Homo sapiens: one gene and its partners. The protein of the gene in region 2 purifies or fractionates together with the protein of the main gene of each other region. This does not show direct contact. Each region holds a gene or a part of one and is shown on either strand. Other genes may lie near its edges.

Evidence for each region.
Region 1: the proteins of HK1 (region 2) and SLC25A13 fractionate together in Homo sapiens (co-fractionation; one large-scale study listed by BioGRID). This does not show direct contact.
Region 3: the proteins of HK1 (region 2) and ASPSCR1 purify together in Homo sapiens (affinity purification with mass spectrometry; 2 studies listed by BioGRID and IntAct, with this or other methods). This does not show direct contact.

Annotation. Positions count from the first base shown.
Region 1 is NC_000007.14:96,189,599-96,193,098, forward strand, and holds part of SLC25A13 (electrogenic aspartate/glutamate antiporter SLC25A13, mitochondrial), read right to left. Parts: coding exon 3,439-3,500; intron 1,650-3,438; coding exon 1,511-1,649; intron 77-1,510; coding exon 1-76. UniProt on the Homo sapiens protein: Mitochondrial electrogenic aspartate/glutamate antiporter that favors efflux of aspartate and entry of glutamate and proton within the mitochondria as part of the malate-aspartate shuttle.
Region 2 is NC_000010.11:69,398,829-69,402,590, forward strand, and holds the end of HK1 (hexokinase-1), read left to right. Parts: intron 1-2,162; coding exon 2,163-2,307; 3' UTR 2,308-3,054; downstream 3,055-3,762. UniProt on the Homo sapiens protein: Catalyzes the phosphorylation of various hexoses, such as D-glucose, D-glucosamine, D-fructose, D-mannose and 2-deoxy-D-glucose, to hexose 6-phosphate (D-glucose 6-phosphate, D-glucosamine 6-phosphate, D-fructose 6-phosphate, D-mannose 6-phosphate and 2-deoxy-D-glucose 6-phosphate, respectively).
Region 3 is NC_000017.11:81,983,950-81,987,675, reverse strand, and holds part of ASPSCR1 (tether containing UBX domain for GLUT4), read right to left. Parts: intron 2,170-3,726; coding exon 2,069-2,169; intron 1-2,068. UniProt on the Homo sapiens protein: Tethering protein that sequesters GLUT4-containing vesicles in the cytoplasm in the absence of insulin. Modulates the amount of GLUT4 that is available at the cell surface. Enhances VCP methylation catalyzed by VCPKMT.

The DNA of each region.
Region 1 (3,500 bases), on a different chromosome or scaffold from region 2:
TCTGCTAACTGAAACAAGATGTCAACTTCCATGGGTGTAACCTGACCAAATTTCTGAGCTGCCAGAACAAACTCCTCTGTATGGAAGAAAAGTTAAAAGGGAAAGATTCAAGAAGAAATAGCCACTAAATTCAGCATTAACTCAAGGCACTGGAATGAGTGAACATCACAAAACTTTATTATTATCATCAGTTGTAGAATTCAAGTCAATCCAAATAAGGTAAGAATTTTTGCAGTTCTTGCATCCATTTGGAAAGCGTGTGCAGAATATGTTCTTGAATATACAGTTTAAAAGCTTGGGGTCATCTGATGTTATTCAAATTGCCAATCAGAGAAAATAAGGAATCATATATGAAACTTCATATGCATAGGTCCCAGGAGGGGAAGTTATATTAATCTAATTAACTGGTTAAATTAGGATTATTAATTATATTAATTTAGGTGGTTATATTAATGAAGGTGTGGAATTCCTAAGGGAATTCTGATTTTTTTTTTTTTTTTTTTTGAGACAGAGTCTTGCTCTGTTGCCCAGGCTGGAGTGCAGTGGTGCAATCTCGGTTCACTACAACCTCCGACTCTTGGGTTCAAGCGATTCCCCTGCCTCAGCCTCCCAAGGAGCTGGAACTACAGGTGTGTGCCACCATGCCCTGCTAATTTTTTTATATATACATTTTTAGTAGAGACGGGGTTTCACCGTGTTAGCCAGGATCGTCTCAATCTCCTGACCTCATGATCTGCCCGCCTCGGCCTCCCAAAGTGCTGGGATTACAGGCATGAGCCACCGCACCGGCTCTGATTTTTTTTCTTAATCCCATTACAATGCTGATAATATCCTGTCCCAAGCCTACAGACCAACTTACACTGTCACCAATGCAACTTTATGGAATTCCTCATATACACCTGAAGGCTTCCTTAGAGGTTGCCAATTTAGCTCAAGCTGTAGCAAGATTTGAAAATATTTAAGAAACTTTACATGTTTTCCTTATTCAAAGGGTGTCTTCAGTTTATTTATTTATTTATTTATTTATTTTTGAGATGGCATTTTGCTCTTGTTGCCCAGGCTGGAGTGCAGTGGCGTGATCTCGGCTCACTGCAACCTTCGCCTCCCAGGTTCAAGCGATTCTTCTGCCTCAGCCTCCCAAGTAGCTGGGATTACAGGTGCCCACCACCACACCCGACTAATGTTTGTATTTTTAGTAGAGACAGGGTTTCACCCTCTTGGCCAGGCTGGTCTCGAACTCCTGATCTCAGGTGATCCACCCACCTCGGCCTCCCAAACTGCTGGGATTTCAGGTGTGAGTCACCAAGCTGGGCCCAGTTTGTTTAAAACTTGGTGAAGATTGTTTTGTTTGCTTTTGTTTGTCTGATCAAAGGATGAAAAACACACGTTATCATATAGTTAATATGTGTCAATGGGATAGAAAAATAATAAAGTACTAGTTGCCTTCTTCACCCTAATAATAATACACCACAATACTTGCAGGCTAGAATTCAGATATATTCTCACTCACCCTTAGTCACTTCAACATCTTTCCTGGTGCCAGCCAGAGTGCTATAGATCTTTCTAATGAGTTCCATGTTGTTAAGGAGCGAATTAAATCCATTAAAATAGGAGAAACTAACTTGATGGGATGTGGTACCTCCAGCAGCCTCAAATAAATTGAAAACAAGAGAGAAGAAAAATATACAAAAGATTTATAGATGATTCAGAAGTACATACATCTAAAACTAGTTTGAAAGTAATCAAAAATGCATGTACAAGAAGAAATGACTATAAGTATTTTTCTTTTGCATTAAAAAAAAGCTATAAATGATTTTTAGAAGCAACTGCAACTAATCATGACCAGAACTTGTACTCTCCATACACAACTCCTAGAAAACTAAATAAATACATGTGTAGGATTATAACAGGACTAGTAGTAATTTAGAGTTCAAATTTCAATTGGAAATGTTTTATAAGTTGGTTTATTTCATCTAATGAGCAAATCTTAAAGGCTTAAACATGCAAAAACTATAAGTACATATGCACACATGTGTGTGCTTATGCATGAAAAACTGTATTGTATCAATGCAAACATACTATGAAAAGTAGTCAATGTAACATTAATATCAAGACTTGTCAAGTTACTTATAACCAGTAATAAATAATCATTTAGGTACAGACTTTACATTGGTGGGATTTCTAGCAAACAAGCATATTATGGTAAAATTATGAGATGCCATATACTTTCATGGGGGGTTAAGACTAGTAAAAATTCTGATAATCAGAATTTTTAAGAAACCATATTTCTTCACAGGGGACAAGGGAAACAGACAGAATGTCCATTATGAATGAGACTTCAGTTTGGAGTTTCAAATTCTATCCTTCCCTAGCAAGGCAAAATATTTTTATTAGGAAAGCACTTCTTTACAAGGTAACAACCACATAAATCTTCACTTAGTAATCATTTAAAATAGCTGACATGAAAGTTTAGTATGGAGTAGAGAAGGGGGCGCCCAAGAAAAGGAGTTAGATTAACACAGTGCCAGAATGGAAGAGGCCTCGTTGGAATACCATGTCTCTAGAACTAAGGACTTGGGGGAAGAAAGGAAACTGAAAGGCTACTCTGAGTTCCTGCCTATGGTAAGCACTGTGGGAAACCCAGATGATGGTGAAAACAGTATTCTCCCTGGGATTAACAAAAGGAGAGTTACCACGGGCTATTGGTCCTAAAACTGAGTTATTACCAAAATCACCCAGAAGCTTTACAAAATTAGATTCTAAGACCTCATCGCCTATAGATGGTGTATGATAGGCCTAGAAGAGATCTCAGAATCTGTAGTTTTAATAGTTTTTAGTGGTGATTCTGGTGCTCCACGAGCAGGTCTTAAGAACCACCACCACAGAATGTTGCAGGACATCCCCAGGGCCCATGAGGGAAGGACAGCAGCTGACACCTGGAGGAGGGAGGCTCCATGAAACACAACTGCAGGGCTCTGCTGTCACATGTAACTCTGTGGCCTCGACACATACACGGTGAAAGGGAATCTAAGGTTTGGAGTTTCTGTTGTGCTAACTACTCTAACAAATGATATACATGTGCACTATTTTTTTTTTTTTTTTGCCTTAGAGCATCTAAGAAGATTAGCAAAAATCAGCCCTTGATATACTTCAAAATCTAAAACAAAATTAACATGAGATCACAAATCTGTTTTTCCTTTTATCTTTAAAAAGCTAATGTATTTCTCGAAGATATTCCGTATTACCCAGACAACAAATTAACCTACCCACTAAAACTAGCCAAAACACACTCTTTGTTTGAGTTTAGTAATGTATGTGATCACATTAAAATGTTAGTGTTTGCAACAGAAAAAAAACACTACATAACTTATAAGAATTGTTTTTATAATTCCTTATTTACTGAGTTAAACCACTTCATTAGGGCAAGTTACAACTTACAGCTACTAGACATTCTTCTACAAAAGGAGTCAAGACATGGGGGCGGATGGTGACCATGATGT
Region 2 (3,762 bases):
GTGAGTGGGCCTTCCAGTTGGGATGCGCAGAGCTTGCTGGGATCCCTTTGGGTTAGGGGGTATCAGGGTGTGGTTTACGCTGGGGAAATGCCCTGCGGGAGCCCAGCCAGGCTGAAGGCTGTGCGTTCAGGAGCTGGGGATTGTCTAGGACAAGGTAATGAACAGTTTGTAGGGTTTGACTGGGATCCTTAGGGAGACAGAGAAGTGGCTTCACTTGGCCAGCTCACACCAGTGGCATGATGTGACCCTCACCCCACTCCTCCTGGTCCCCCTTAGGTGGGGGCTAGGCAGTGGGAGAGGAGGTGAGGGTGGGCGTGGGCTCACTCATAAGCCTGGTGAGCTGTAGCCAGGCCAGAGGCTCTGTTGGGTAAGTGGGGAGAGGATATTAAGAAAGGGGAGGAGCTGGGTGCAGTGGTTCACACCTGTAATCCAGCACTTTGGGAGGCCTAGGTGGGAGGACTGCTTCAGTCCAGGAGTTTGAGACCAGCCTAGGCAACATAGTGAGACCTTGTCTGTACAAAAAAATTTTGAAAATTAGCCAGGGATGGTGGTGAATGCCTGTAGTCCCAGCTACTCGGGAGGCTGAGGGAAGAGGATTGCTTGAGCCTGGGAGGTGGAGGTTGCAGTGAGCCCAGATCACGCCACTGTACTCCAGCCTGGGCAACAGAGTGAGACCCTATTTCAAAAAATAAAATAGGAAAGGAGGATAGCCACTCTCTTGTTCATCTGCTGAATCAGTTTGCTAAGACTTGGAAGGGCGGGAGCGGTTTGGGCCCTGGGCTTCATGGCAGGGAGGGGTAGGGAGTGGCCTCCCTCTGGTCAGGCATCTGACCCCCCATGCCAGAGAAGGACATGTGATTGCACTTGCTGTGTGATTGTGATCCACCGCATGTCTCACCTTATGAATAGGGTGACCATATTATTTATTTATTGTCTACACTAGGGTACTCTTGCCAGTCAAGAGTGCTAATAATTATTACTCTGGGACTGTAGGCAAACTAGGACCATCCCAGATAAATGAGGCCATAGTGTCACCCTACTTATAAGCAACCTCACCCGACTCAGTGTAGACATTACCTGCTTACCTCATGGCCGTGGCTTGGGGTGGAACCATCTGTCTTGCTCCATCCTCACCTCTGTCTCTCCCCCTTAATAGCTGTCCTTGCCATCAGCTGAGGCAGCACACAGGAGTGGTTTAGAGCTAGGCTTTGGAGCCACATACTCTTGGATTTAACCCTGGCACCGTCACTTAGAATCTGTGTGCAATTGCTTAATCCCTGCAAAATCTCATCTTCCTCATGAGGTGGCAGCCACTGGCAGGACTAGAAATTAGAGCTGTAAAATATGGGGCACCTAGTAGGTCCTCAAACTCCTTGGCTCAAGTGATCCTCCCACCTTGGCCTCCCAAAGTGCTGGCATGAGCCACCGCACTCCGCCCACCTAATAGGTCCCCAACCAAGGACAGTGACTACTTTTGAGAGCCCCTCACCACAAGCATCTTCAGCCTGGCCCTGCCCTTCATTTTGAGCCCAACTTACAAGCATGTAGATTCAGCCTTTGTTCAGATACTATCTTCACTGGAAGGCATTCCTGTCTTTGGGGGCCAGGCTGTTGATGGTGGGGCGCTGGGGGTCTCAGGGTTGCAGCTGGAGATGGGTGATATTCATTCCTGCATAGCCTCCTGAACCGATCCAGTGCTTGGCTGGCTTGCACCTGCCTTAATGATCCATGTCAGCCCCTAACATCCTCCTTGGTTTTGAGGTCCCCCTGGAGCCTCAAGCTCCGATGTGGGTGTGTGTGTTATTCATGTCCTAGCCTTCATAAGCCATACAGAGCAGTTGTGTTTGGATTCGCAGTTGGGCCTCCCTGCTGAAAACTGTGACAATGGGATTGACCGTGGGCCCACTTTCCTCCCAGCCATTCTCAACTGGCCACAGCTGCTTCTAAGCAGCCTGCCTCCCAACCATGTTCACCCTCCTTGTTGTTGGGTTCAGAGTCTCTTTGACTTCCGATGCTTATGTCCTGATAAACCCATCACAAAGTCGAAGAATCCTAAGTCGAATCATCACCAGTCAGGGGGCTGTCTGTGCTTTGGTGTTTTCGGGTAGGCCCAGCGTCTCTCATCTTCCTCCAACTACCTTCTGTTTTCTCGTCCTTTTTAGCTTCTCCAGAATCATGCACCAGACGGTGAAGGAACTGTCACCAAAATGTAACGTGTCCTTCCTCCTGTCTGAGGATGGCAGCGGCAAGGGGGCCGCCCTCATCACGGCCGTGGGCGTGCGGTTACGCACAGAGGCAAGCAGCTAAGAGTCCGGGATCCCCAGCCTACTGCCTCTCCAGCACTTCTCTCTTCAAGCGGCGACCCCCTACCCTCCCAGCGAGTTGCGCTGGGAGACGCTGGCGCCAGGGCCTGCCGGCGCGGGGAGGAAAGCAAAATCCAACTAATGGTATATATTGTAGGGTACAGAATAGAGCGTGTGCTGTTGATAATATCTCTCACCCGGATCCCTCCTCACTTGCCCTGCCACTTTGCATGGTTTGATTTTGACCTGGTCCCCCACGTGTGAAGTGTAGTGGCATCCATTTCTAATGTATGCATTCATCCAACAGAGTTATTTATTGGCTGGAGATGGAAAATCACACCACCTGACAGGCCTTCTGGGCCTCCAAAGCCCATCCTTGGGGTTCCCCCTCCCTGTGTGAAATGTATTATCACCAGCAGACACTGCCGGGCCTCCCTCCCGGGGGCACTGCCTGAAGGCGAGTGTGGGCATAGCATTAGCTGCTTCCTCCCCTCCTGGCACCCACTGTGGCCTGGCATCGCATCGTGGTGTGTCAATGCCACAAAATCGTGTGTCCGTGGAACCAGTCCTAGCCGCGTGTGACAGTCTTGCATTCTGTTTGTCTCGTGGGGGGAGGTGGACAGTCCTGCGGAAATGTGTCTTGTCTCCATTTGGATAAAAGGAACCAACCAACAAACAATGCCATCACTGGAATTTCCCACCGCTTTGTGAGCCGTGTCGTATGACCTAGTAAACTTTGTACCAATTCAAAGACCCGAGTGATGCTTAATGGCTGGGGACGGGGGGACAGGCAGAGGGGGGTGCAGTTTCTTGGGATGTGGCAAAGACCAAACACTGGGGAGTTTTGTGGCCTTCTGGGCGGAGGAGTTTTTTTTTTTGAGATGGAGTCTTGCCCTGTCACCCAGGCTGGAGTGCAGTGGCACAATCTCAGCTCAGTGCAACCTCTGCCTCCCGAGTTCAAGTGATTCTCCTGCCTCAGCCTCCTGAGTAGTTGAGACTACAGGCGTGCATCCCCACACCCAGCTAATTTTTGTATTTTTAGTAGAGAAGGGGTTTCACCATGTTGGCCAGGCTGGTCTCCAACTCCTGACCTCAAGTGATCTGCCTGCCTTGGCCTCCTAAAGTGCTGGGATTATAGAACAAGGCCACTTGGCTTCCAGGCTGCTTGGGTTCAGTGAGAGGACTGCAACACTGGTCCCCTCTCTGCCATCCCCACCCGGATCCTGCCCTTCATCTTCCTCTCTGCCAACCCCAAGACAAAGGATGAAATGTGCTCTGCCCCACCCCTCCCCTCCCTCTCTACCCAAACACAGATGAAATCTTGAAGCAGCCCAGGCTGGCTGCACGCTCCCGCTCCCGGATCTTTTTTCTTTATTTTTTATTTTTATTTTCTGTAGACAGGGTCTCACTGTGTTGCCAGGGCTGGTCTCCAACTCCTGAGCTCAAGCAATCTGCCCCC
Region 3 (3,726 bases), on a different chromosome or scaffold from region 2:
TTTCACACGAGGTTTACAAAGTCTGTTGAAGAGGCTTATGCTACCACAATGCCGGCCCCACCTCTCCAGACACCCTCGGCCCCTCCCCAGTGGCAGCCCCAGGCCACTCTGGGCCATTTCCTTACCTCCATCCCCATCTGAGGACTGACAGCACAGCCAGGGAGGACGGCCCTCACCAAGCACCTGTGCCTGTGGGAGCACTGGATTCTGTTCACGCCCGGGGGCACCGCCCGGCCCAGGGGCATTTCCTTCCAGACGTTCATCTTTCCTGACTTCTGTTCCCCGCGCTGTTTGGTTTTCTTCTTGCCCTCTGCCACTCTCGTCTCAGGAAGCAGCACAGAGCCAGGGCGCCGGGATCCCTGCTTCTCACCCAGTGCCCACACAGCGCCTGGGGCTGCCTGCCTCCCTGCCCGGCGCCACTCCTGGCTCGGGTCCCGCTCACCCCTGCCCGTGGCTTCGCTTTGCTCTCAGGCTCCGTCATCTCCTGCCTCGGGTCCCGCTCACCCCTGCCCGTGGCTTCGCTTTGCTCTTAGGCTCTGTCACCTCCTGCCTCGGGTCCCGCTCACCCCTGCCCGTGGCTTCGCTTTGCTCTTAGGCTCCGTCATCTCCTGCCTCGGGTCCCGCTCACCCCTGCCCGTGGCTTTGGCTTTGCTCTTAGGCTCCGTCACTGTTGTCTGAGTTCCGTTTTGGGAGGGAGAATTCCGTGCTCGTGCTTAACCCGCTGCCATCTCCAGGGGCCTCCATTCACCCCGACAGCCACTGGGGTGGCTTCCATCCCCATGACCACTGAGACCCGACGTGCAGACCTCAGCGCTCTCACCCACGAACGCAACACCCGTGCCATGCAGCGCGGCACTACTGTCAGACGGGAGCAGGCCCAGCCCTGGGGCCACCAAGCGCGCCCAACGCACAGTCACCTTCCCAGCGCCCGACGCGCGGTCACCTTCCCACAGGCCCTATGCTCGGTCCTCAAGACATGAACTCACCCCATCCACACACCAGCCGGGGCACAGGTGAGGAAACTGAGGCCCGGGGAGGGCGAGAACCCCCTGGCTCACAGCAAACCCCAGCCCCAAGTCCCTTCCATTCTGCTGAGCCTTTTACTGTGGACAGAGACTTCCAGCCAACGATGAAAAGACCCAAATTGACAAAGCACCAATTTTTACACATTCAGGAACAACGTTTAAACCATTAACCGACAGAAACTGATACACATCAATTACTTATTTTTATTTATTTATTTTTTTGAGACAGAGTCTCGTTCTGTTGCCCAGGCTGGAGTGCAGCAGTGCGATCTCGGCTCACTGCAACTGCCTCCACGGCTCAAGTGATCCTCCCACCTCAGCCTCTGGCATAGCTGGGACCACAGGCACGCACCACCATGCACTATGCCTGGCCTAACATTTCTATTTTTTGTAGAGAAGGGGTTTCACTATGTTGCCGAGGCTAGTCTTGAACTCATGAGCTCAAGCGATTCGCCAGCCTCGGCCTTCCAAAGTGCAAGCCACTTTGCCCAGCCACTGTGCCCAGCCACTGTGCCCAGCCATCCAATTACTATTAGGAAGATTTTCTGGTGGGGCACAGGAGCTCACACCTGTAATCTCAACGCTTTGGGAGGCTGAGATGGGAGAATTTCTTGAGCCCATGGGTTCAAGAGCAGCCTAGGTGACCAACATAGTGAGACCCTGCCTCTTAAAAAAAAGAGACCTTATGATCCCATCCAGGGGAATCAAGCATGGGGAGCCCTGCCCCCAGCACCGAACGTCTCCCCTTAGTGCTCACCAGGCCCCCACAAGGACAGAAGCACATTCCTGCTCTTCTAGGTGGGCAAGGCTGGGCCGCTGGGCCCAGGAAACTCAGAACGATGAGCTGTGACCAGCCATCCCCGAGGCTGCTGCTCATGAACCGGCAGCCCACACACCCCTCCTCTACAAAGGACTGCAAAGTGCCAAGAGGCACCACAGGCCAGCACAGAGCTTGGGTGTCCAGCTCTGAACCAGACCCAGTAACCACAGCAGCTTCCCCAGCAAACAGGGTAGGGAAGAGCCCCCAGCCCACTGATGCTCACCTGATCTGTGGAAAATGGCTGAGAAGCTCCCAGAGGGTCTGGCCTGAACAGAAAGAGTCCTGCAACCTCGAGCCATCGTCCAGCTGCAAAGCGATGCGAACCTGGAGGGTATAAGACATGAGAAACTTCCTTAGGAAGAAAAGCAACTATTCCTTCTAAATCCCAGACTGATTCTCCAGACACAGAGAGGGTGACTGCCCCGCCCTGGCCTCCAGGGAGAGGCTGACCCCCACGGAGAAGGCTACCCTCCTATTCACTCTGGAGTGAGGGCCTTGGAGGCTCCCCGGCAGGGCTGCACCAGCATGCGTGTGTGCATGTGAGTGTGCAGGTATGTGCAGGTGTGCGTGCGTGTGTGCATATGTGTGTGTGGGTGTGTGCGGGGGTGTGCAGTTGTGTGCAGGTATGTGTGTGGATGTGTGCATGTTGGTGTGTGGGTGTGTGCAGGTGTGCGCATGTGCGTGCAGATGTGCGTGTGTGTGCATGTTTACATGCAGGTGTGTGCGGGTATGTGCGCAGATGTGTAGGTGTGTGTGTACAGGTGTGTGCGTGGGTGTGTGTGGGGGGGAGGTGTGTGCATGTTGGTGTGGGCGGTGTGTGCAGGTGTGTGGGGGGGTGTGCACGCAGGTGTGTGGGTGTGTGCAGGTGTGTGGGGTGTGTGCGGGTGTGTGCGGGTGTGGGGGTGTGTGCACGTTGCTGTAGGGGTGTGTGTGGGTGTGTGTGGGGGGTGTGTGTGCGGGGGTGTGCAGGTGTGTGTGGGGTGTGTGCAGGGGTGTGTGGGGGTGTGTACGGGTGTGCGGGTATGTGGGTGTGTGGGGGTGTGTGTGGGTGTGTGTGGGTACATGCAGGCGCCACAGGAGTGAACTGTGTTGGAGACAGTCCTCGTGTCCCAGTGGGGGCTTCAAAAGATTGCAGCTCCACCGAACCTGACTGCAGCCTCAGGACAGACACTGAGCTAAGCTGCTCCCAGATTCCTGACCCTCAGAAGCCACATGAGATGGTAAATGTTTGCTGCTCTTTTTTTTTTTTTTGAGACAAAGTCTCACTCTGTCGCCCAGGCTGGAGTGCAGTGGCAGCACAATCTCGGCTCACTGCAAGCTCCGCCTCCCGGGTTCACGCCATTCTCCTGCCTCAGCCTGCTGAGTAGCTGGGACTACAGGCATCCGCCACCACCCACGGCTAATTTTTGTATTTTTAGTAGAGACGGGGTTTCATTATGTTGGCCGGCTGGTCCCAAACTCCTGACCTCAGGTGATCTGCCCGCCTCGGCCTCCTAAAGTGCTGGGATTACAGGCTGCCCTTGCGGCATCCATGCAGCGCTTTCGGCTCTAACATTCTGGGCAATTCTATGAGCAGGTGGTCAGGCTGGTGGGTGAATGCTGCTGACACCCTGAGCCAGGGAAGGCACAACTGACCCCAGAAAGAAAGAAAAACTTCCACATGAAGAATGACGTGGGCGGGGCGCAGAGGCTCACGCCTGCAATCCTTTGGGAGGACTTTGGGAGGCCGAGGCGGGTAGATCATGAGGTCAGCAGTTCCAGACCAGCAGGCCAACATGGTGAAACCCTGCCTCTACTAAAATACAAAAATTAGCCGGGTGTGGTGGCGGGCACCTGTAGTCCTAGCTACTCGGGAGGCTGAGGCAGAATGGTGTGAACCCG